5 separate regions of the Homo sapiens genome follow, and all the other regions are linked to region 1. The links come from fine-mapping of genetic effects on gene expression. A gene starts in region 1. Each other region holds a variant in brackets. All regions are shown on one strand. Distances are from middle to middle.

Region 1 (5,103 bases):
GTGGTGGTTGTCAGAAGGCTGACAGGTGGGGGCGGGGCCAGCAGGAGGGGCAGGGGGCAGCTAGCTCACTATACCATATAAAGCACTGAGCTATATATAACTCACAGCTTACTTTCTGGATCTAGTGCCTTCAGACTGCAGACCCAAGCAAGTATCATCTTCCCAGGCAGATCTTAAGGGGTGGATTAAGGCTTACACTAATGAGAAAGGAAGCCTCAAAGTGTCTCTGTGCCCCACCATGAAGTGCAGCCATCTAAGTAAAGGTACCGCTGTGTCATTTCTTTCATTTAGAGGCCAGGTTCTCTGAACCCTGACTAGACCCACCACCAAACCCAGAACTTCCCACCCACTGGAAACGGCAAAAGGAAAGAAAGTGAAGAAAACCTGGCATTCTCTACACAAACCTTGGTGATGACACCTCAAGGGTTTTCTGCCACCAGGGAGGTGAAGTTCACCTCCAGAGTCCAATTTCAGCTGCTCTATTCTCCCAGCCTCTCATCCACCCACCTCCACCCCCAGGGAGGTAAAGGAAAGGAGAAGAAGAGAGGAGTGGATGAAATATAAATGAATGTGTGCAGTAGCAGTCAGAGGCGGCATCCAATGCTCTGGGCCATGGCAGGGCTGTGTGCAGGTGTCCAGCAGGAAAAGGTAAACTTCCTTCATTGCTCTCCAGCCCTGTGGTGACCCCGGAGTGGCCACGCAGGCAAGAGGTGAGGGAAGCAGTGTGAGCGTGCACTTACATCGGTGGCCTTTTTCTCTGCCAGCTCCAGCTTCTCCTGGGCATCTTTGAGAGCCTCAGAGTATTTGTCCAGTTCATCTTCGGTGCCCTTGAGTTTCTTTTGCAGTGACACCAGCTCATCTTCCAGCTGGGAGTTGGCCAGGGGGTACAGGGAGGGAGGGGGGTGCAGCAGGCAGCGTGATCCCGAAGGGGAGGGGTGTGGGTGCACAGAACCAGAAGGACAGGGACAGCGGGAGAGACAGAGGGAAAGACAGGGAGGGAGAGAGAGAAAGAGAAAGAGTTAGCCATTCGTGCGCCACGCCGTGCCGCGCGCCCCGGGTACCTTGGCGGCGGCCTCTTCGGCGGCCAGGAGGCTGTCCTCCGCCTTGTGCAGCTCCTCCAGCACCCGGTCCCGCTCGTCCTCCGACACCCGCAGCAACTTCTCCTTGGCCGCGATGTCCTCCTCGAGCTGGGGGCAGCGGCGGGCGGGCGCGGGCGGCCGGCACGGACCGGGTGTTAGACACACACAACACACGGGCGTCGGGTTGGCTGGGGCCCCTCGGGCTCGGGGCGCCGCCGAGTTGGAGTGCAAAGGACCCGAGGTAACTTCCTCTTTACCCGAGCTGGAACCGCTCCGCGGCTCACCCCGCACACCCACCTGCCCTGGGACGAGACTCCTGCCGAGGTCTCAGCGGGCTCAAGTCCACTACTTGGGGACACAGAAGAACGCCACTGCTGGCCTGGCTTTCGGGCTGTAGCCTCCATTCCGCCCCATCTTTGTTCTTAGGTAACAACTCCAGGACTCCCTTCTCCTCCCCAAGTTTAAGGTTCCTTTCTCCCCAGTCAAAAGTCAACGAACTTCTAACACTTGAGTTACTCGACCCCCTTTCTCCATCCCTCGCCCTTCCTTCAAACGTCCCCAGGAACCGGGTGTCCTCCTCCCTCCCCCAAACTGATTCCCAGTCCTGAGAATAAAGCGCCTCTAGGACTTGATTTCGCGGGCCATGGGAACCAGAGAAGGGAAATAAGCGTCCTCAGACCAGACTAAGTTAGACTAAGCCTGGCTCTTGCGTTTCCCTTCCTTCTTTCCAGACGCGCGCCCTGGCCGCCCTGGGTGGTGGTGGGGGTAGGGTGGTGGCTCCCCGAGTCCTCGGGGTGGGGATCCAGCCGGGGGTGCCAGGCTCGAGTCCCGGCGCTCTGGGCGCGGGCGCAGGGCCGGGGAGGCGCAGACCTGCTTGCTCCTGTCTTCCGCCGCCTTCTTGTCGGCCTCCGCCTGCTCAGCTCGATCCAAGGCGTTCTCCTTGTCGAGCTTCAGCATCTGCATCTTCTTCTTGATGGCGTCCATGGTGGCGGCGGCGAGGGGCCCTGGGGCTGCAGCAGGAGCGGCGGGGCGAGCGCGCGGTCGGGCGGAGGAGCGGGAGTGCGAGCGCGGAGCCGCCTGCTTCTCCCAGATATGTACTTTCCCAAGGGGGCGACCGCATTCCTCAAGACAGCCAATACTTTTTTGGAAAAGCTTTTTTCTCCTGCCCCCCTTCCTCCTCTCCTCCCTCCGCCCCGTGCCCCCTCCCCGCTCCTCCCGCGGGGGCCGCTCGCCCATTCGCTGCCGGCCGCCGGCCTCCCAGTTGACGGTGGATATGACTATATATGGGGACCCGAGCCGCCGAGGCGGCGGCCGGAGAGGCCGCCCTGTTTCTAAACCTGCGCGCCAGGGAGAGGGCGTTGGGGCCGAGCCGGGGCCGAGGCGCAACCCTCCGCCCTCCGCGTGCCCTTCTCCCAGGGCCGGCACCCAGCCATTAGGGTCCCCAACCGAGCCCGCCCTGAGCTGCCGGAGGCCGGGAGAGCGCGGACCAGGTGGTGGATGCGCGTCGCCCCCCTGTGCCGTCCCCCGGCGCGCTTAGCCAAAGGCCCGGGGGCTTCCCAGCCGTGCTGCACCCCGCGTCAGGGTCAGTGCGCTCTCGGCACCCGCCAGCGCCTCCCCGGCAGCTCTCAGCCAGCCAGGTGTCATCCTGCGCGCTCACGCTCTGGAAACTCAACTGCAGCAGAGAAAGGGAGAACGTGGGAGAAAGCCTGGGGCGGCTCTTGAGACTTTCTCTGCGGGCGCGGGTCAGAGAGGCAGGGGGCGGCACAGCGACAGCACACGGAGTCTTGTTTTCTGCCTGCCCTTTCCCCCAGCGGAGGGACAGTCAAATACTTTAGGGACACAGGACTCAGTGGCGTACTTCTGTGCTTGCTGTGCAGTGCCTCCAAAAAGGTGTGCATGTGTGCGTGTGTGTGCGGGTGGCAGTCTAAGGGGAAAGAACATTGAGTTTAGACTCAGGCAATTTGGTCTGTGGTCTCTACTCTGCCACCAGCAACTGTGAGACCTTGTTTGCTGCCCGCGGCTTCCTCAACTTTAAATCCAGCGGGTAGATAATCCCCGAGGTCCCTCCAGATATAACTTGTTATCATTTTTCTTGCACTGATTTTAGGGAGTCGGCCTTCCATGTTAGATGCTTAGGTGCCAGGTTTCGGAAAACATGGGATCGGCGTTAACCTGGCTAAGTCATTGCATCCGCAGCCGCAACTCTGAGGAGGCTCTGCCGTGTGAGCTGTGCTTGGAAGGAGGAGGATTTCCCCCAACACTTCTTATTTTTAACTACTCCTCCCATCTCCCAAGGGGGAAAGGCTGCTTTTTTTCAGAGCTTCAGTGGGAGGGGAGGAGAGGGGGCTGCCCCCAAGCCCTGAGATCAGCTGAGGCAGGGTTGGTGAGGGTCTTGTTAATAGTCCCCACAGAATAATTCACAGTCTGTACTGCATGGTTACCAAATATTCCCCGGACGGTATCTGAGCAGATTAGGCAGGCCAAACAACTTGTAAGTCCTTCAGAGAATGATCAAATTCCTCTCCAAGATTTTATCGGGTTTCTTCCACTAACCTAACTGCCCAGGAGGGAAAAGATACACTGACCTAATGGTCAGAACATTAGATCTGACCATTAGCATAGGGGCTGCGTGGCACAGAAATTGACCAGAGCCCTTTAATCACGGTGTGTCAACCCAGCCACCGGAACAGTGACAAAGTTCCAGGCATGTGGACGATATCCAGATGCGTGGACTCCAGGGAGCTGACTCCCCAGGTTGGAGCTCAGCAGAGGAGGCAAGAATAGGGAGTTAGGAGTCAGTTCCAGGGATCCAGACCTGGCCTGGTCACTTCCTTGCAGTGTGACCTTAGCCATGTTACAATCTCTCTAAGCCTTTTTTCTCACTTATAAAAAGAGGCAACTGAACTAGAGAAACTCCTTGCGGGACCACATGTTACTGACTTTTCTTTTCTTACTGTGCCATATGTAGCCGAGGGACTCATTAAAGTTTCCTTAAATGAAATCATGCTACAAGCAATTTATTAAACACACGGTTGTTGAGTACCTGCTATATACTAGGCAGGTACTAGGCTCTGGAATCCAAAGAATGAGTAGCACAGGTCTATGTCCTCCAGGTGTTTGGCATGAGAAAGGTGTTAAGAATTCACACGAGGAAGAAATAGAAATGACTAGGTCAGAGCAGATGGGAAAAAATTCTCTGAAAAGGTGATGGCTTTTAAACTGATTTTAAAGGAAGGGTAGCAGTTAGCTAGAGAGGAGGGCCGTTGTATGCGCCAAGGAAAGAAAAAGGAATGTTTGGTGGTGGTTGGACAGTAGGATTTTGGGGGTGAATGGGGGCATGAGACTGGAAAGGAAGCTTGGGGCTGTATGATAAAGGGCCTTGAATTCCAGATTCAGACATTCAGACCTTATTGTGTAGTTTAAAGCCATCGATGTCTCTTCTTTTCACCTCTTCCTCTCCCAGACTCCCTCACCTAGGGCCTATATTCAGAGGTCGAAGCCTATGGTGTCAAAGTATGGAAATGGAGCTATACAACGCTAACTTTTAAAATCCCTTAGTACCACATCATTGATCTCTAGACTGATGGGTTAACATAGCAGGTCCTGAATTCAATCATTTCTTTTAACCCATGTTGAGATTCTGCCATGTGTCAGGCCCAAGTCAGCTTCATGGGCTATACCACCCATGACCTTTTTGTCACCAAGGGCTAAGACAAAGCTAGGACAAGCAAAACGTCATGACTTAAATAACACATTCTTCTGTAGTGAACAGGTCTCCTGGTCCTCTCCAGAGGTAGGCTGGACAGTCACAGGCTGTATGTAGTGTGTATCCCTGTTCTCTGGCTGATTGGCCACAACTCAAGGATGGATCTAAATACTAACCAGGGACTTGGCGTTGTGGCTTGTCAGGCAATGATGAACTGGGCCACTCAGCTTCTTTCATTGCAGTTTGAATTAAGGAACGTGAAAAATGGGAATCACTAGCCGTGGCTGCTGAAACAAAAAGGGATTGCAGTGTCGGGCT
Region 2 (5,103 bases), 170 kb after region 1:
CACCTTTGCCAACCCCAGCACCCAAACGGCCAAGAGTGAAGGATAAAGCGTGCTGTTCTCACACTGCCACGGGAGCTTGAGGGCTGAGTACACAGGTCTAAAGAGAGGAGTTGATGTCAAGGGGAAGGTTGGCCTTCATAGCACAAAGCTGAGCCATTTGCTTGGTACAGTGCCTTTCCTTAGATTCCCGAGGACTTTTCCTAGCAGGGCAATGGGAGGAGCTGGCCCCCAAAGGAAGGTTGGAGTCACCCACCAGCTCTCTGTCCAGCCCGAGAGAGCGGCTCCAGCAGCCTCTTAGCGGAATCTCTCCGGACATAGACGTGTGAGGTTCCTCTTTACTAGAGGCAAGAATCTCTGAGCGCCCATGTGAGTGCTTCTCCACCCCAAGTCCACTTCAGAATCCTGTAACTGCTGGGACAGCCAGCCAACCCTGAGTGGCGAGATCATGACTTTGGTTGGAGGGTCCTCTGTACTGTTCCGTGACACTCATGTATCAGGTCTTTCCTGACAGAGCAACTCAATGTGGAGCCCAGTGTCTTCGGCCAGGCTGCATGAGATTCCTTCCCTGCACACCACTCCTCTGGGTAAAGAGCCAGAGGTGATGGCACCTGGATCAAGCTGGGATCCCACTGTTGAGGCCTCATGTGGCTCCCTCTGGCTGCCTGACCCTTTCCACCCCCTGCTTTGGGCCCCATTTGTCCAGCAACAGCCTGTTAAGTGCTAAGGCTTGCCTCCTACCACTGCAGAATTGGGGGCGGGGAGCCCTGGAGGTCATCCAGGCCTGTGCCTGGTAGGACCACCCCAACATTTACCACTGGTCTGGGCAAATTGCTGCTTCCCAGAAGTGGCTTTACCAAGACAAGGGCTAACCTCACTTAGGTCCCAAAAGTGAGGTTAGCCCTCTTTTTCATCATGACCCAAGCCCAGGAAGGGAGGACACAGGGCCTATTACATTATGTCTGGAAAGTTGGAGGGTTTCTTTCATCCAGTCGTGTTGCTAAATAACCTGCTGAGAGGCCACGGCCACATCCCAAGAAGGATCCCAAAGATGAGCTTCACCCACCAATGCTCCTGAGATGGCCAAAGGCAGGCTCTTTACTCCAGAAACCAGGAACAGGAGGCATAGGGAGAGAGAGATTTGAGTATTAAATTTAAATCTCTCCATTTAAGTTTAAATTTAATATTTAATTAAATTTAAATTTAGAAAAGAAAATTAAAATGAAACATTGCTTAGCTGATTGAAACTCCTGATTTGTGTGTTTCTAAGCTCAGAGAATGATCCCTCGAGGACTCATGGCTGGTGGCCACCAGTGATGAGACAAAGGCAAGAGAGGGGCCCTGGGCTCACTACACTTCTAGCCTCAGTGCCCTGCACCATTTCTGCTCTGCACCTCACCCCAAAAATGCCAGACAGCAGAGGGAACCCTGGGCTGAGACGGAGACCTGGGACCTAGTGCCAGCTCTCCCATGGAGTGACCTTAGACACCCCGTTTCATGCACCAAGCCTCAGCTTCCTCATCTATAAAGAAGAAGGACAATGGGCTATCACTTGCAAACCCTGTAAAGTTTTTGTTAAGCTCCAGCAAGACAGGGTATGAGAAGTGTGCAGTGGGAAGAACTTCACAATGCGAGCTATTGTTAGTGTTATTTTTGCTCATAGAGGGTGGCCATCCCTGCCTGGGAGGTGGCATGAGGAGTATGCCAGGCTGGCAGGAAATGCCGTGGCCATGGGCATGGGGGACCTGGCAGTGGCCTATGATTCCAGAGAGTGTGCCCAGGAGCTAGGTGTCTAAATAAGCAAATGCAGGCCTCCCTGAGGACGTGGACAGTCATGCACCCCACAGAAGGTCTGAGTGGGTAGTTATGGGCACCCCAGGTTTCTGGACCAGCTGTTCCTCCAGCCCGTCTTGGAGCTGGAAGCAGAATAGAGACCAGAGTCTGGGGTCAGGGTTGGGGTAGGGGCTGTTGTGAAGCTGCATTGTGCATTTGCTGTGGGAATGCTGGCAGTCACATGCCTTCTGCCATTGCCTGCCCGGCTGGGTAAAACTGAGCTTCTGTGCCTTTAAAATTGTTTGACATCTTTGAGATTGGAAACAGAGCTCCCCAGTGGAAGGCCAGCAGTAGCTATGGAATGCTATTCTAATACAAAACTTACTCTCGGTGGATTTAAACTGATAATCCCACTGGCAGGCTTTGGAGCGAAATCACCTATTATGGTCCTGGAAAAGGCCCCAGATTCTCTGGGCTGATCTTTGCCCATGTGGGCTAGTGAGAATAGAGCTGTTTTCCCTCTCAGGCTATGCAGCCCCATCTCCCACCCTCAGCTGACGAGACAACCCTGAGATTCTAGTCCGGATACAGGACTGAGAGCTCAGGGCTGGCGGGGAGTCCCCATGGTGTTTTGCTCTAAGACACTCGCTAGCCCAACCCCTTAGGGGTGCCTGGCCAAGCGCTCAACATCAGCAGATGGCAAAGCTCGCGCTGGC[G/A]GACAGGTCTCCATTCCAGGCTGCCTCCCTCTCCCAGACCATAATGTCAAGGATGCGGGCCCATTTCGCAGTGGGGGTAAGCCTGGGTACTGCAGTTTCTCATGGCCAGTCAGCTCCCGAGGCGACGGTTCCTTCCTCCCACTGCGGGGACCCTTGTGACCGCCTGGGGACTCTCCAGCTAATCCCTCCTGGGCCTGGCCCTCCCATGGTCAAGTCCTCTGTTCCAACGGAGGCTCTGGAGGCAGAGAGAGCAGGGTTAAATCCTGGTCTGCAAGATTACTTAGGGCAAGTTACTTAGGCCTTTCTGATCTTTAGTTTCTTCCCCTGTCAAATGGGTATAGTAATCACACACATTTCAGTGTTAAGAGAATGAAATGAGCTAGACTAGAATCAACAGCCTAGCACGGTGGCTCTCAAAGTGTGGTCCAGGAGTCCGCAAGACCCTTTCAGGGTAGCTTTGAGGTCAACACTGTTTTCATGAAAATACCAAGATGTTATTTGTCTTTTTACTCTCATTTTCTCACCCTCATGGTTTCCAAAGGCTACTGGCTCTGACAGCTGTTGGGATGTGTGCTGTGTATTCTTCTTTTTAAAATATTCTCAGCTTCAATTTATAAAATGATAATGATCCATAAACAGAAGTCTGGGGCCATCAATAATTTTTAAGGGGCCTCAAGACCAAAAACATGGAGAGAACCGCTGGACCAGCACAACACTGTGTGCTTAGTAGGTTTTCTTTTCATTGGCTCTGAGCTGTCTTCCTTGCCCTGTTTCCCCATTCCTTGATGCAGGGCGTTCCTGTCCTTTGCACCATAAAGGATGCATTTTATTGTTCATTTACTCCCAGCCCTACTTACTGCACCTTCACATGTGGAAGGACTCGACCTACCAACTTGATGCCTTGGTAATGGTTGTTTTTCTCATGTTGCATGAGCCCCAGTACCCACAGGCCAGCAGTATTATTACCTCACTATGCTGATTTCATCCTGGTAAAAACAAAACAACAACAACAAAAAAGCCTCACTGAAGTTTGTCACGGTCAGATGAAGACCTGTGGGCTTTCTCTGACAGGACAGAAATCGGGGTGCACAGGAATGTGGTTTTAGCCTTGGTAGTTAGGCAAGATCTGCTTTGCTTTGTCTTCAGCCTTTGGAAGCCCACATACTCAAATGCCTACTTCAAGATACTGTGTCTTCCCTGAACCTGAGGGTGATCAATGATCTTGTTACTGTATGTGCATGTTATTGTATTAGGGTTTGGTCAGAAAAACAGAAGCCACTCTAGGTATTTAGAGAAGGAAGAGAGGTTCAATACAGGGAACTAGAGGCATTCATGACCTCACAAGAGCAGCGGGAAGAAAGGGCAGAAAGGCCACTTTGAAATCTGGAAGTTCAGAGATCCCGGGGAAGTGGCCATGAATGGTGTCCGCTTCCAGCAGCATCAAAGTGGGAGATTCTCAAGGAGATGCCCGAACGCCATGCAGAACCCCACAGGAGCAGCTGCTGCTGCTGCGAGCTGGCCTGTCCTGCCTCTCAAACACTGGCTTCTCCTTCTCTTCTGCATCCCCCAAACAAGCGAGAGTAGAATCTAACCTGAAGCCTGCCAGCCAGAGAGTCTGGGAAGCGTTGTTTCCAGGCTTCTTGCCCCTGTGGTTTGGGTGATTGCTTAGGTCAGGGAGTTGACACATAGTATCTCTCATGGTTGCATATCATAGCTAGCCTATGAAATAATGGTGGTGGTATGCACAAAGTATGTCAATCAGATATACTGTTTATTAGTAATATTTGCTTTCTTTTTTGCATTTTCTGCTTTTATATAGATATATTGTTACTATTTGAATATTTCCTCTTAATTTTTTTTTTTTTTTTTTGAGACAGAGTCTTGCCCTGTCACCCAGGCTGGAGCGCAGTGGCGTGATCTCGGCTCACTGCAAACTCCGCCTCCTGGGTTCAAGTAATTCTCCTGCCTCAGTCTTCTAAGTAGCTGGAATTACAGGCACCAGCCACCACGCCTGACTACTTTTTTGTATTTTTAGTAGAGATAGGGTTTCACTATGTTGGCCAGGCTGGTCTTGATCTCCTGACCTCGTGATCCACCCACCTCGGCTTCCCAAAGTGCTGGGATTACAAGCGTGAGCCACCATGCCTGGCCCTCTCAAATTCTGATAAGGATTCTAGGTGTATACTTTGGAGAAAAACAGCTCCTTGAAATATATGTAATTGTATGAGTCAAATGATGCAAAATGTAATGAGGATTGTGAATGCTGTTCATATTATGCAAAATACAAATATTAAATTCACATAGTTTAAAAAATTAGAGGCTAGGAGCAGTGGCTCACACCTTTAATCCAGCACTTAGGGAGGCCGAGGCAGGAGGATCACTTTAGGCCAGGAGGTCAAGACCAGCCTGGGCAACACAGCAAGGCCCCATCTCTACAAAAAAGAAATTTTCTAAATTAGGAAACTAGTTAATAAAAATATTAGGAAAAATGCATTATCTCTAGATTAGCTGAGAAAGAATATTGTCTTTTTTTACTAAGTTTATAGAGTTTAATATTAAGTTTAATAAGAGATTAATAAGAATTTGCATGATAATTCTAATCTTTGTAGAATTTTTT
Region 3 (5,103 bases), 250 kb after region 1:
CAGGGGTCCCTAGCAGCAGATAGAGAGGCTGAGTGCAAGCTGAGCAGAGATAGGGGCTTTGAGCCCCTATCTTCCCAAAACAGGGTTTAAGCGAAATATGCCTGCCCCTGCCATTCCCAATCCTGCTGGGGTTGGCCAGCAGTTTGAGGAACGGCTCTCTGGCTCAGCGTGTGGCAGGTCTAAAATCTGTCCTTTGCTGTAGCAGGCTGGATTTAAGGCTGTCAAAGGCAAAGCTCGAACCACGACACTGTGTTTACAGTTGGCAAAGGGGGCTTATTCTGATTACATGGTTCACTTTCCCAACTTGTGCATCTTGTTGAAATCAAAACAGATAACTACATTTCTGGCTCCCAGGTGGCGTCTCCAAGTCGATCATGAGTTTCAGGGGCAGGCCAGCCTGAACCTCTCCCCGTCCAGGACCCCCACGTACCTGTGGTCTGCGAAGGTCTCACTGTTCTCTGCATTCAGCGTCCCCGCTGTTGCAAACATAATGGTGGTGTCCAGGTCGGCAATGATCCCAGACACAGCGGTGGCGGCTGTAATGCATGCCTGGGTTCCTTTGTTCCCGGCCTGGAGAGCCGAGAGCACCAAGGAGACCTGTAGGCAGAAAGGGAATGTGAGGGGAGCTAAGAAATGGAGAGAACAGGACCTAAAAGCAGATTCTGAAAATAATGAATTCTCTCCTAGGAGTTGATGTAGCTTAGAGGTTAACAACACACATCTGGAGTCAACGGCCTCAGTCTGGATACCAGCTTTGCCATTTACAGGCCCTGTGACCTTAGGCAAAGCTGCTTTACCTCTCCAAACCTCAGTTTCCTCATCTGTAAAATGGGGCCACTATTTCTGGCCTATTAGGGTTGTTGAGAGAATTAAGTAGGAAGAAAAATATCTGTAAAGTGTCTAGCAAGGCATTTGGCACATAGTAAGTACTCAGCAGAGGGCAGATGCTATTTATTCAATTACTGCTATGTTTCTGAAACCACAGAACGGGAGAAAGGATTAGACTCCTGTGAAAGGTGTGGCGATTACATCCCCTTTTATTAGGTTTTCAGTAGGAACAGGCCACTGCTAACACTCATCACACCTTTGCTGGGATGGAAATTCTCCAGAATGGAGTTCAGAAGGGCTGGAGTCTAGAGGGGATCTGTGTATGTGACCTCTCCACTTCTAACACTCCTGCAAGCCATCATCCACCCCCGAACCATCATTTCAGTGCCCCGAGGGCCCAGCAAGTTCACTCGGGTGTCTTCCATGTCAGAAATCCTGTGCTGTCACCCTCACCCATCACGTACACCCTCACTGCTCCGAGGTACTTTCCTATGACATAAACCTGACCACACTAACACCCTGCTTACAAATCTCCCCTGGCTGAGCTCCGTTTCTGGTCATGTGTCCGCTTCACCTGGCTCTCACCACACCCGCCAGCTCCTGACTTTCCCAAACACTCCCACCTCTCCACCCTGGGTCTGCGCTCTGCCTGCAACGACTCCTGCCCCTCTCCCGCAGCCACCGAACTAGTTGCCCCGTCAGATGCCAAAGTGAAGGAAGAAGGAAAAGCCACCAAGCACGGATGTATCATCCTGTGCCTCAAGCAGCCTGCAAAACAGCTGAGCCCCGGACACCTCCCCCTGCTCTCCTCTTCCAGAGACAGCCCTGCCTCCCGGGACGCCACAGCACACCGTTCTTGCCCTCAGGATGGCCCAATGCACCCAATGTAAATCGCATGTGTCAGGCTAGTGGCTGGAGGCTCTTTGAGTCTTTGTATTAACCTCTGCGTGCACACACCCACTACCCTTGACTACGACCCAAAGAAGAATCTGACAACGTTTCGTAGGTAGATTTCTTCAAACATGCTGACCAGGGCAGGGGAGTCACTGTGTTACCGTGCCAGCAAGAGGCATGGAGTATGAGACACTCTGTCCCCCGTGCTGCTGAGATCTCAGCAGAGGCTGTGGACACAGTCTGGCAGGAGAGGCACAGGGACCATTTCCTGGGTACCTACCACGTTCCAAGACCAGCCCACAAGGAATTGTTTCTCTTCCTCATCTGCCTTTCTTTCAAATGCTACTAGGTCCTGCCAGGAAAAGACAAGTCAGACTGGCATAGAGCTGGCCGGGAAATGAGGTATCCAGGTTCTGGAAAGCCCCTCAGAGGATGG[G/A]TGACAAAGGCCAAGACAAGTATCACGGGAAGCCTGCAGGGTTGTATATGTGTCTGGGAGAGAGACATTCTTAGCCAAGGTGAAAGAAAAAGAGTCCAGAAATAGCATCCCACCCTCTGTGAAGGGTGTGCCAGCCAGCAGGTGTTTACTGAGTATCTGCTAGTCACTAGGGTCTGAGGACACAAAGGCAGACAAGTCATGGCTGTGTGTGGGTACACTATACACACCATCAAGGCATATAACGAGACACAAGGCATAGAGGACAGGGACGCACAGCAAGAAACAGTCAAAAGGCCAGTTGCTAGGAACGAGCCACCTCCTCTCCTTTGGTGGTCCCTCCAGGTGTCCTAAATCAGGGACCCAAAGCCGGGACAGGTAGCGGCCGAGGCCAGCTCAGGAAGACCAAGCTGCTTGGCCATGCCTACAAACACTATGTAGCTCGGACCCCTCTCCTCCCTTCCTGGTGCTCCCGCTATAAGGCCTTTTATGGGGGAACTTGGCAAGAATAACTTCAATAACAAGAAAGGGCTTTGAAAGGAAGGCAAATGCCTTCCTCCAGCTGAGAGATTTATTTCCTCGTCTGTGGAGTCCCAGGAGGCTGGACAGCCCTGTGGGCTATGGGAGAAGGCCAGACTGTAGCTTGGCCTCAGGGAGGGCCACGGACAGAGCAGCCTCTGTGGCAGCAGCTTCCAGTTGAGGGTCCCCCCTGCCCGCCCCTCAAGTCTGTTGCCAAGTTTCTAAACAGGACAGAGCTCTGTGTCCTATGAACCAGAGTTAAGGGAAGGGGAAAAGCCACCAAGCCTGGATGCTTTATCCTGTACCTCAAGCAGCCTGCAAAACAGCTGACCTGAAAAATGATTCCGAGACAAAAAGCAAAGCAAAAGACTCGCATACTGGGGGAGAATAGAAGAGCTACTTGGGAATGAAGAAACATTCAGAGTATGGCGTGGTTAACTGGGGAAAACTGCCTGGGGAAAAAGAAGTTTGGAGGAAAGTTAGAGAAAACAGTAGCTAGATTTATTACATGTGTAACTGTGTGTCTGGCACTGTACCAGGCACTTTTACACATATCAGCACAGTAAATCTTTGCAGTTCTATCAGTCAGATATTATATATTTTTATCCTCATTTTACAGATGAGGAAATCAAGTTGTGGAAAGCTGAAGTACCTTAGCTAAGATCTTAGAGCCTTCTTCACTACCCCATGGGAATCTCTCTACAAACAACTGTCTTTAGAATCAGAAAACCGAGGACAAGTTTCTGCTTCTCCACAAAGGCACACGCCACTGCCCCATGTGGCCTAACCCACCCCCACTTCACTGTCTCATCTGTAAATTAGAGGTTACACCAAAGGGATTTTCACTCCTCCTGACTCAGCCCTCAGCCCTCAGCAGCCTCCTTGAGAAGAAAGATGGTGTCAACAGAGGTTGCAGGAAAGGGCTCTGGCTCCAGGCCTCCCCTGACCAGGGGCTCCTGGCTGCTGATGGGGACTTTGATACAATCTGCCTACGGGGAAGCCCTGCAAGAAGGGGGAGTGCCAGGGCCTGACCTTCATGGGATAGTCCCTCTAAGCCCTCAAATTCTCTGGGCCTATGATCACCCCAGCTCCCTGATGCACCCCATTTTTGGGAGAACCTGGGCAGTGGGGAAGATCGGGATGAGACAGCTGAGTCAGCTGGGTTAGTTTTGGCTGAGTTTCCTGCTTTTGTCCTTGATTACAGCGGATCACTGAGAGCCAGCGCAGGTTCTTGTGACTCTAAACTGAGGGCTGCTCCTTACCTTTTCCGTGACGGCACGGGCGCATTCGATCAGCTCCCTCTTGGTGTAGCTGTCTGTGGGGCAGACCTGGAGGGCCCCTGCCTTCTGCACCAGGAAGATACAGCCGTGGCCCAGGTCCTGCACACGAGTGCGAATCTGGAATCCGATCTGCAGAGGCAAGCCCAGGATGGGGAAGGAGAAGCGTGATGGACTCTGCCATCGAGGCCTTCCCTACGTGGAAAATTTCTCCTATGTCCTATGGGAGCCTGGCTAGGAAAATTCCACTCCTATTAGGAGTCTGTGTTTGGTGAAGTATGGAATTTGGTTGATTTTGCTTCCCTTTTGAGAGACTGTAAAATGCCCAGTCTCTACCTAGCAAGGCTGTATCTTGAGGTCCTAGCGTGATACCCTCCTTGATACATATCTTTCCTGGTTTATAGCTTATCTGCTCCTCCAGCCACCTGGTAAGAATGTTAATTAGAGGAACTTTGTGGGATAATTCTGTTATTCATTCAACAAGCATTTACTGAGCCCCTATTGTGTGTCAAGGCCTCTTCTAAGCAGGTAATGTGTTTAATTTCATTTATTCTTCAAAATAGCTCTAGAGGGTAATTAGAGGTTCAAAATGTGGTTTCCGTATTAAGCATATTTTGAAGTGTTCAGATTCTTGCAAAATTGGTATGTTTACCAACTAGAACACCCCCTTCCCCAGCTGTATCCCATGGGGACAGCGACCATACCAAGCCCAGACTTCCTATCAGGCCAGGTTTGAGGTTTCCTTTAAAAGGTACATTTTTAGAGCTAAAAGCTCAGCAGGCACACATTCTTTTAATAACTCCTGGGTTGTGTGATTATAAAAGGTACTTTGCCTAAGAGAGGCCAAGTGGGCTCCGCTGTGGATTAGCTGCCAGCTGTCTCCTTTAAGGTGTAACAAATTCCACTTCCACCTCCCCGAAGTTTGCATTCCTCCGGCCCTGTTTCACATCAAATTTCATTTTGGTCTGATCGATACAGCTGCCATAAATAATCTGCCTTCCAGCCCAGGTAGGCAACTCAAACCTAACCAAAACTTTAAGCATGGGTCAGTGTTATTTTCAAGAATCTACAAGAGCTAGAAGCTATGGCTTTTATTTTTCCAGCGTCTATCAGGAATAGTTATGAAAAGATCTCAGGTATTGTGAATAAAAC
Region 4 (5,103 bases), 27 kb before region 1:
GCTATGCCACTGCTAGAGGCTTAGCTAATATGTCAGGAAGAAAAATCCCCAAACCAGTAAAGCCACTGCCAAAGTCCTACATGTATGTGCAGGCATACACCAATAACATTGAAAACAACATTTGGAAAGGGTCTCTCCTGCTTGGTTATAACTTTAACAGACCAAAATAATGCTGCCTTTAGTGTTTCTGAGAAGGTAACACATGAAACCCAGTTTCCCCTGGACTGTGGGATATTGTTTTGAGAACCTATTTGTGGGGGAAGGCAGGTCAGTCACACGTTCAAAAGTTCACAAATTAAGAACATACAAATGACAGGACCACCAAATTTAGAAAATGTCCTACAATGTGCATTTTATTCCATATCATTATACAATGTTTACATATAGTTAAAACTCTCAAGAAAACGTCCTTTACCAGTTGTATGTGGTGTCTAAATCTTTAACATGAAGGACTGAAAAGAGTGGAAATCCACACTGATTGTTATCCTACAGATTGTCATGAGCTGCACGTGTGCCAATCAGAAAGGAATGGAAGTCTCGGAAGAGCAGCGTGGCTTACAGACCCTTGGCTTTAGTGAATTCAGGCATGCGGGATCCATAGTCTCATCTTGTAGTAAAACTCAAGACAAAATAAATTAGTGTTGGACAGAGTTCTACATTGTACAATGTTGAACAAAAGACCACAGGGGGACCTTTTGTTCAAAGTAGCACCAATCCACACCTGATTGTGTTTCCAACATTAACCTTCCTGTTGACTCTATCATTGGCACTTTGAATGGAACTTCTTCTGCTTTAGTGAGGATTCCTACGCTGACTAAGCACACTGTGTTGCTAAACTCTCTACAAAGTGTGGCAGCATCAACCCGGGAAATGGCACATTTGAACCAGGATCGCCCTGACATGGGCTTGCCTTTTTGTATGTGTTTTCCCCACCCCCTGACCTAGCTGGTATCTTGTGGATGTTTCTGTGACAGTGGTAAAAGTAAATAAATTGCATTTAAGGGGTAAGCAGGTGTTTAAAAACAAAACAAAACAAAACGAAAGAATGTGGTCGCAGCTAAGGAGGTTTTCACATGTTGTTTAACTCCAGTAAAGTCTGATCCAGCATCTGATGCATACTAAGGTTTTCTTCTTTGGCATGAGCCACTTTCTCTGTGGTGAGATTAGAAAATTAAGTCATGAATAGCTGTGCTTTGGACACAATGGTGGTTTGTACATTTAGGCAGGCAAACATCAATCACAAACACAGGATGAGATGATTAGAACTAGGCATGCTTGTAAGACATTACTCATTTCTAGACAAGAACCTAAGACGGAGGGGAGGGCATCTTTGACCCAAAGGAGCCATGGCACGGATTCTCACAGAGCAGTCAGGTGCACCTCCACCAACAATTCACTGAGGATAAAATGCACGTGGGGTTTGGTGAAGGTTCACTGACGGTGTGCCGTGGGAACAGGGAGAGGTAAAAACCAAATACAGCTGCAGCACTGTTATACAAACTGAAGAAGTTACGAACAGCAGACATTTCCAAGGTACAGGCAGTTAAAAGTCTGGGAGTTGTGCGGTAACACAAACTCACAAAAGCAAAGATGACATAAATAGGTTTTCTGAGAACTTTTAAAATGATTTATTTCTGTTGCTCATAAAAAATTGTCAACATGTTTCATGCACACTTCATTAGGACATTCTCTTAATATTTTTATAGTGTTCTATTTATTAGCATGACATTCTCCCCAGACTCCAACAGCACCATTAGACTGAGTAAAGCATACCTTTCAGACAACCAGGGGCTTCTGGCATGAGTTCCTGTTTTCAAAAGCTATTTTGCCCAAGCATAGGTACATTTAATCATATTTCAAACACTATACCAGATATTTAGAAGTTAGGAATATGAGTATCTGATAGGAATATATACACACACACACACACACACATATATATATATATATACATACTTAAAGTAGGACTCATGGCTGTCAGGAAATAGAAAACATTTTTTGGGGGGGCTCCTCATTATTTATCAGTTCAAACAAGAGGACCTGCTATTTCAAGGAGCAGTGCTGAATTGATATAAGTATTCTACCATAAAAGCTGTTTTGTGATTAAAGAGAACGTAATTATTCCAGCCATATAGAGAAACAAGCAGGCAAGGCCAGCCTTTCAGCCAATTCCTTGCATTTGCATTTCTGCAGAAAGCAACTGTTTTCAACTCTATTAGTTGAAGGTAGGACAGTCTTAGATTTTCTGCACATGGGCTCCACGCCTAGAATTCAGCCCAAGTTTTTTCACTCTTAAGTTTAATCCTCATTCAGGGCCAGCTTTAGTTCATTAGTGAGGCGGCGATTTTGCTCAAGTTGCTGGTAGAGTTGATCTGTACAGGTCAGCAAGCAGGTTAGCAGAAAAGAGGCAGAAGGAAGACAGGTTAGCAGACTTGGTGAGAGGCAGTTAATAGAGAACACAAAGAGACCTCAAGCAGGACAGCAACTGGTCACTTGCTGAGCAGTTTACTCTTACCCCATAGTCACCTGTCCTGTATCCAGGAAGGGTAGACCCTAAAAAGCTTGGTAGACTTAGGAAGTGTCAGAATTTCTCTCTTGGTGAGGAAAGGAGGGGAGGAGGAGCAACAGGATAAGAGGAGGAAGAAGAGTGAATGTTCCTCTTATACCTCACTAAACCACTTTGTGAGCTGAGCCATACATGGTTTCTGGCAATAGATTTGGGAATGCAGGCCTGGCTGGAGGCGAGCCCAGCGTGACATCCACCCCTTGCTAGGGCTCAGTGTTGAACTTAAGTGAAACATCAACCTGCCCAGTGCTGCCCACCTCTTCCAGAACCCCTTTCCTCTCCGTTCACAGGGCAGGCTTTCCCCTCAGGTAGGACCAACTGGGGGTTACTGCTTTTGCTGCACTGAAATTTTTTGAAATTTGGAATTAAGTCTCTGTCCTTCCCCCAGTCACCACAATACAGGGTACACATTCTGACTCCTGTCTAGCTTTGATAGTGTTATCCATTCAAACAGCAAAAGAACAAGCACTTGTCACCACTCAACACTGATTTAGAATTTATCTGCTTGCTTTTTTTGTTTTTTGAGACTTAGTCTCGCTCTGTCCCCCAGCGTGGAGTGCAGTGGCG[T/C]GATCTCAGCTCACTGCAAGCTCCACCTCCCGGGTTCATGCCAATCTCCTGCCTCAGCCTCCCTAGTAGCTGGGACTACAGGCGCCCGCCACCACGCCTGGCTAATTTTTTTTGTATTTTTTTTAGTAGAGATGGGGTTTCACCGTGTTAGCCAGAATGGTCTCAATCTCCTGACCTCATGATCCGCCCGCCTCAGCCTCCCGAAGTGCTGGGATTACAGGCATGAGCCACCGCGCCCAGCCCTATCTGCTTACTTCTTGAAGAGGATGGCATTCATGTGTGGTGCTAATGGATGTGTATAAAATGAACGAAACTTGCAACACCTACATGAAGACCAGCGTGATATACATTTTACACACTGACACGTGATCTGCTTACGGGGGAAAACAAGTGCAGGAGTCAGTCTGTATCTGATGATCCAGGGGACATCCAAGCTATGACAAGCAAGAGCCCGGTATGCACTGGGAACAGCTGGAGGATGCACGGTGGCTTTGAATGCTGGTGACAACTTGGACCTAAAAATACTTCATGATCTTGAAAAGCTAACAGACCTACCCCTAGGGAAAATGTGCCTGCAGCCCCCGGGTCTGTCAGGAGACTGAGCAGTTCTCACATTAACATTCTCTTATAAATGGTAGGACATGGGAGGATGCTATGCTCGTTATGTTTTCTCGCTTGGAATATCTGCTGCTCTGTCCTCTTTGCTCATCCACATTTTTTGAATATGCCAAACCCCAGTCAAACGTCCGCTACCTCCTCCAGGGAGCTCCCAGTCAGAATGGTTCTCTCTTCCTTGTTGCCTCCAAATACACATGCCTATTAGTTCGGACTCGCTTCACTCCTCTATCTCCCCATCAGATGCCCAGCTTATTGAGGACAAAGAGCCTTTCCAGCCCATCTCTTTACCACACCCCCACTGCTTCCCACGGTGTTTTGCACGTGACATATGCTTGGGGGTTCCAAGACATATATCCCATTACTACATTCACACTATGGACATAGGAAGTGTCGCCATGGGTGGGGAGCTTGTCTCAGTTTGCTGAGCCCAAATGTTTGGCCAGGCTAGAATGGAAGAACTTTGGAGAAAATCTGGAGAATCCAGAGGGTCAGTATGAATTCAGCAGGAAGGACAGTGGTCCCTCCGACAGCCTCCTCTGGATCTGCTCTGCTTCAGCTGCTGTGGAGCTGGTGTGCATGGGTGGCCCAAAGGCAGGGACAAGACATGCTCATATCCTTGGAAGTGTTTTCCCTTCCGGTTCTATGGAGACTCCCAGCTGTCTGAAACTTCAAGTGCCCAAACTCAGTGATGCTTTTGGTTTGGCCCACCAGAGCAGCTGTAGCTATGGCCTGGCCCTTTGAACCAGAAGCCTGGTTCAAATCAACAGTTGAACAAGAAATCAACAATTTCTTGATAAACTTGAGTTTATCAAGTTTTCCTCTTGCACATGCATACCTTGGGCTACTCCTGACCTGCCCTCCCAGTCCATTAGTGCCCCACTTCCCCTTGTAGAGTGTACTTATAGAAAGTGCGAAAGTCTCTGGAAGGATTTCCAAAACACAGATGTGCCTCCAGAATTACATGAACATCTGCTCAGCAGAACTTTCAGACTTGGCATTTTGTCTACATCAGGAAGCAGGATTTACTCAGAGAAGGGTACACTTCTCTTATTCTGAATTTAAAAAAGAATGAGGAAGGAATCATAGTCAGAAGCAGGCCCAAGGAGCCTTAAGAAAAGAAAAGCATGAAATCATGGAAGTCTTTATAAACTCAAGGGAGAGACATTGTCCAGATTCTAAAATTCCACCATACTATGACTAAAATACTTTAATTCACAGCTTTCTTTAAAAAAAAGTATTTCCTCTATGCTTTGAAGTCTCTGTAGAGTGAGAATGACACTATCTTCTGAGTTTGTCCAAATTTATTTGAGTATGGTGGTATATCAGCCCTCTCGGGCTAAAAAAACTATATA
Region 5 (5,103 bases), 92 kb after region 1:
TTCAAATTTTTCGCGGTTACAAAACAATGCTCCAATGAGCGTCCTTGCATGTCTCTTCAGGCACATGCTCAGGAGTCCTGGGCTGTGTGTAACTTCAGTATTCACATATGATTCCACATGGGCTCACGTTTAATCCTCATAAAGCTCCAACACATTTCATTGACTAGGTGTAATTGTCCTGTGATAGACATGAGGCAGTTCATTGACGTTACAATTCACCCAAGGCAAGTCAACCGGCTTCATGAGGTGCTAATATGTATTCCGTTAGTCCAACATCAACGGATATGGTTCAAGTGATGGCCCTGGAACTTTCCAGTTGTGCAATTTGAGGCAAGTTACTTATACTTGCTGGGCCTCAGTTTCCTGTAGCACTAGGAATTACATGATTTATTCTGTGCTATTGTTGTAAAGATTAAATCAATGTGTATAAAAAGCATCCAGCCCAGATTCTAGCAGGTGGTGTAGAATCCATATTATTTAAAACTAAGAATGATAAATGCTCAGAAATATTTTTAATAAAAGTAATGGATTATATGGGCATTTAATTCCCCAAATGTGACATTGTTCTTCCAATTTCCCCCCACCCCCCCACTATTCTGAAACAAGCATAATTGTATATAACTAGTTCCTCAGGATTGTACAGTATGCCAGCTTCTGTGACTGATGAATGTGAACTAGGAACAACGACCACTAGGGCAGAGCCATCTGACTGTTTCTTTTATAAGAACGCGCATTTTGATAACTAATATTCACATGTCGAAGAGGGACTTTGCATGCTACCAGAACACAAACGCATCTACGTAGTAAAAACAAGTCTAGTTCTTTCCCTTACCACTTGTGAGCATCTCTTTGGAATTTGGTTTTCCTCATCTGCATAGCAGATCTTTGTTCAAGAAACTCTGTTCAAGTATATACAAGTATACTTGAATGTATAAAACGCCCCATGGGGCCCTTAAATAAGTGTAGATCAGTACGGATCATTCAAACTAATTTTATTCAATGACACTTGCTCTCAAGTTTCTTGTTCTGATTTTGTTTAAATATGTTAAGATCCTTTCAAACAAGGCTTGGGTTTCCGACTTTCCTGAAATGTGCCTGGGGCAGGGTGGACATGTAATAACAGTAGAGAGAGGTCAGATTTCAGAATTAGACAGCTTGGGTTTGCCATATGCAAGCTGTGAGGCTGTGGGCAAATTACGTCACCTCTCTGAGCTTACTACCTCACCTGACAAATGAGTGCAGAAATACCTGCTTCGTGAGGCTGTGGCAAAGATTTGATGAGGTTCTGTACACAAAACACGAACTCTACAAATATTAGCCTCCCTCCTCTTCCTCCTGTCCTGCTAAACTTAAGGCTACCGCCCTCTATGCCAAAAATCAAGATGGAAAATTCTTTTCTTCTCCCTTCAAAGGCTTTGGATGCAGCAGCTTGTCATTTCTTCTTTACCACCAATGCTTGGAAAGAGGATGCTGTATCATTGGCAGTATTGTTTCTTTCCCAACTGTGCCAATTTCTCTGCAAACCATCAGCCCTTTATTTTGTGGCTGAGTTTTATAATTTACCAATTGATGTGGGTATTTACCATCCTTAGAAACAGCCCAGGGATGCCTTTCTCTGGGGGTTTATCAAAACTGCTGAATTTGAACTCTTTTTGCCAAAACCCCTTCTATAGGATTTGGAGTGGGTTTGTGGGTTGGCAGATGCTATTCTAGCAGGAGACATCTGGCCATAAAATGAGGGCTCCACTGAATATGCCAGCGTGGTGTGCCCATGCACCACAAGAGGGGACACCTAGCAGAGACTGACAGGTAAGGTACAACACAGCCCCTCCCCGTTCTGTCAGGTGACGCTGCAGCAGACGCAATGGAGCCCTTGATAATCAATCAAGGTGTCAATCCAGATGGCCTGTGATGGAGGGATGAGGGCTACAGGAGGGCGGGTTGGTAATGAAGCTCCCACAGCTCTCTCCCATGCATGGTTAATGCATGAGGTGACACTCAATCACCTCCCAGTGCAGCAGTTGGGAGCAGGAGAGCAGCTAACTATGCACCTACCTACATCCCTACCCACACTGCTGGAGTCAGGCTGTAGCTGGACAGTGGCCTTGGACTGTTTCCCAGCACGTTATTTCCGATGGGGCCAGAGAAGATTTCCCAGGGACTGGATTAAATTAGCTGGCATTCTTCCCTCATGCAGAAGGACATGGCAGCAGGACTGCTGGGCTTCTGTCTCATGTT[G/A]AGTGATGGCACAGGAGGTATCACTTTCAATCCTATCCTACGCTGGAAAAGGCTGGTGTACAGAAGGGATATCAGGCGTGAGGAACTGGGCCAGGATAAAAACAAGATTGGCAGGAGCACTCATATTAGGCCACGGCTGGGGACAAGAACCCAGGGAAGGCAGAGAGGCAGAAGCCATGTGAGGCAGAGAAGCATTTCACAAGTAATATGCTAACAAGAGTTGGCTGCAATGACTGCCTTTGAACAGGGTACCTACCTTGGCCCTGCCTGGAGGCTGTCCACCATCCAAGCAGCCATCTATCCATTGCTCCTGGCCTGCAAGGAACCCAGCTGACTCCTCTCCTCCAGCCCTGGAGGCCTCTACATCCACCTGGGGGTGAGGGCAGGTACAGTTCGGTGCCGTCAGGGGAGGTGGGAACTGGAAGGTATGCCCCATCTTCTTGTGCTTCTTTTCTTTCTGATTTGTTTTCTGAGGTCAGAGCTAGGAGTAGTTAACAGAGAGAGAGAGAGAATGCTATTCCAGGGTCAGGGGACAGTGCAAAATTCCAGTGATGAGGAAAAACATCTATATAGGGAGCTGCATGCAATTTAGCAAGGTCTGGGCATGTGATTAGCCATGTCAAAGCTCACGTGTCCCAAACAATTCCTCATTACAGGACTTCCCCCAGGTCTTCTCCATCCCTCAGTCCTTCTTACCTGGGGAGGAGTAAATGGAACTCCATCTTCCTAGCCTTCTAGTAACCCACGCCAAACCCTTTAAAGTCATCTTGACCCCTCACAAACCCCATATTTAATCTCTCAGCAAGTCTTGTTGCTCCTGCTTCACAAATTCCACCATCCAGCTCTAAACCAGCAGCGGTTGTCTTCCTGCTGGCCTCCCAGCTTTCAGCGGGTTCCCTCCAACCTGCCTCCTAAGTGATCTTCTAGAACATGTCACTTCCCTTTTAAGATCCCTCCAGTGGTTCTCTGCAGTTTTAAAGTTTTCTTTTTGAGACAGGGTCTCACTCTGTCCCCCAGGCTGCAGTGCAGTGGTGCAAACACGGCTCACTGCAGCCTTGATCTCCCAGGCTCAAGCTATCCACCCACCTGTCCCCCAAGTAGCTGGGACTACAGGTGGCCATCACACTCGGCTAATTTTTTGTAGAGACAAGGTTTTGCCATGTTGCCCAGGCTGGTCTTGAACTCCCGGGCTCAAGTGATTCACCTGCATCGGCCTCCGAAAGTGCTGGGATTACAGGTGTGAGCCACTGTGCCCGGCCGTCTGTCCTCTATAGGATAAAATGAAATCACCTTTATATTGGCTCATAATGCCTTTTGTGATATGACCCCTTCTTACTCTCCAGGCTCCTCCTTCAACATTGGCCCTACCTTTGTCCCAGTAAACACATACAGCCCAGACCATTCATTTTTTCATTTTATTAATAAGGCACTCATCAAATATTTGAGTGATTACTAAGTGCCAGACCCTGTTGCAGAATACTACAATTGCTGTAGAAATACAGCAATGCAATAAACAAAATGAATTATCTGCCCTCAGAAAGCTTAGATTCTCTATAGGTTGGGGGAAGTAGGACAGAAGTATGTAAACAAACAAATGCACGGTACATCAGATGATAAGGGCTAGAGGAGATAAAGCAGCAGAGGAGAATGATTGGTAGAGGTTTCTGGTATTCACCCATGTTCAGTTGTTCCCTCCCTCCAGACTGTGACATAGGAGGTTCACCCTTCCCTACACCCCTCACCCCTTGCAGTTAGATGGAGACATGTGGTTAGTTCTTCCAGTGGTTTGTGTCCTTCGTTGGTGCAAAATATTCCAGCATTCACTTTCCTTGCAGCAACCAAGGAGACCGTGTGTTCCAGTGCCAGTAGCTACAAGATGGCAGAGCCTCCTTCAGCCCGGATGGCAGAGTTGCTGCTTGGAGGATAGTGGTGCTGGCAAGTTGGTCAGCGTGTAGCAGAACTTGGGAGAGGGACGATAACAACCTGAGTGGAGGCAGTGTGTACTAGGCTGCCTAGAGAAATACCTGAGACTAGGTAATTTATAAGAAAAGGGGTTTAATTGGTTCATGGTTCTGCAGGCTGTACAGGAGGCACAGCAGCATATGTTTCTAGGGGGGCCTCAGGAAGCTTCTAAGCATGGCAGAAGGCAAAGAGGGAGCAGGCCCACCACACGGCGAGAATGGAAGCAAGAAAGAGAGCATGGTGTGGCGGGGAGGTGCCACACACTTTTAAGTGACCAGATCTTGTGAGGACTCACTCAATTATCACAAGGACAGTACCAAGAGGATGGTGCTAAACCATCCCCACGATACAATCACCTCCCATCAGGTCCCACCTCCAATACTGGAAATCACATTTCAACATGAGATGTAGGTGGGGACAAATATTCAGACTATATTACAGTGGCAGTGAGGATAGAGGGGGAGGGGGCCAGGATCGAAAACTGTTTAGGAAGTAGGACTTAATAGCAGAATAACCCAGGGGTTAAGGATGAGACAGGAGGCTGGGATGAGTCCCTGGATGGGTGCCTGGGTGACCTAGAGAACACGGAAGATGAGGCTGCAAGGCTGGAGGAGAGATGATGAATTCGGCATGGGCATGTGAAATTTGAAGAGTGTGTTGGAACCATCTCATAGGTGTTTGGATCTATGAGTCAGGCACCCAGAAAAGTGGTCTGTGTTGTTTATATAAACTGGGGAGTCCATGAGAGGCAGATGATATTGGAAGCCATGGTAGTTGCTGAGATGACCCAGGAAGAGGGGCAGAAGCAGAAGGAAGAGAGCAGAGAGCCTCCCAGCATTAAAAGGGGCAGGTAAAGATGTCCTCAAGGAAGACTGAGAAGGAGTAGCTAGGGTGTTATGAGAA

What was found.
Region 2: its variant is fine-mapped to the expression of TPM1 in cerebellar hemisphere (GTEx, PIP 0.98).
Region 3: its variant is fine-mapped to the expression of TPM1 in nucleus accumbens (GTEx, PIP 0.99).
Region 4: its variant is fine-mapped to the expression of TPM1 in whole blood (INTERVAL, PIP above 0.99).
Region 5: its variant is fine-mapped to the expression of TPM1 in cerebellum (GTEx, PIP 0.97). The same link has a PIP of 0.9 or more in cerebellar hemisphere.

What each region holds. Positions count from the first base shown.
Region 1 is chr15:63,039,790-63,044,892 of GRCh38, reverse strand. TPM1 (tropomyosin 1) reads right to left here and starts at 2,146. Exons shown (of 10, transcript NM_001018005.2): 1 at 1,950-2,146; 2 at 741-866. The coding sequence starts at 2,063. RefSeq lists enhancers at 461-1,374, 2,288-3,202.
Region 2 is chr15:62,872,448-62,877,550 of GRCh38, reverse strand. The region is part of intron 1 of LOC105370854 (a long non-coding RNA gene); the gene reads left to right. Among named protein-coding and RNA genes, the nearest start is that of MIR190A, 51 kb to the right of the region's middle. RefSeq lists an enhancer at 1,337-2,175. The variant G/A (reference allele first, on the strand shown) is at 2,487.
Region 3 is chr15:62,791,621-62,796,723 of GRCh38, reverse strand. TLN2 (talin 2) reads right to left here. Exons shown (of 59, transcript NM_015059.3): 46 at 3,937-4,083; 47 at 431-597. Among named protein-coding and RNA genes, the nearest start is that of MIR190A, 30 kb to the left of the region's middle. RefSeq lists an enhancer at 1-466. The variant G/A (reference allele first, on the strand shown) is at 2,159.
Region 4 is chr15:63,067,139-63,072,241 of GRCh38, reverse strand. It overlaps a transcript of TPM1 not described here. Among named protein-coding and RNA genes, the nearest start is that of TPM1-AS, 20 kb to the right of the region's middle. The variant T/C (reference allele first, on the strand shown) is at 3,134.
Region 5 is chr15:62,947,768-62,952,870 of GRCh38, reverse strand. No RefSeq gene overlaps it. Among named protein-coding and RNA genes, the nearest start is that of TPM1, 92 kb to the left of the region's middle. The variant G/A (reference allele first, on the strand shown) is at 2,239.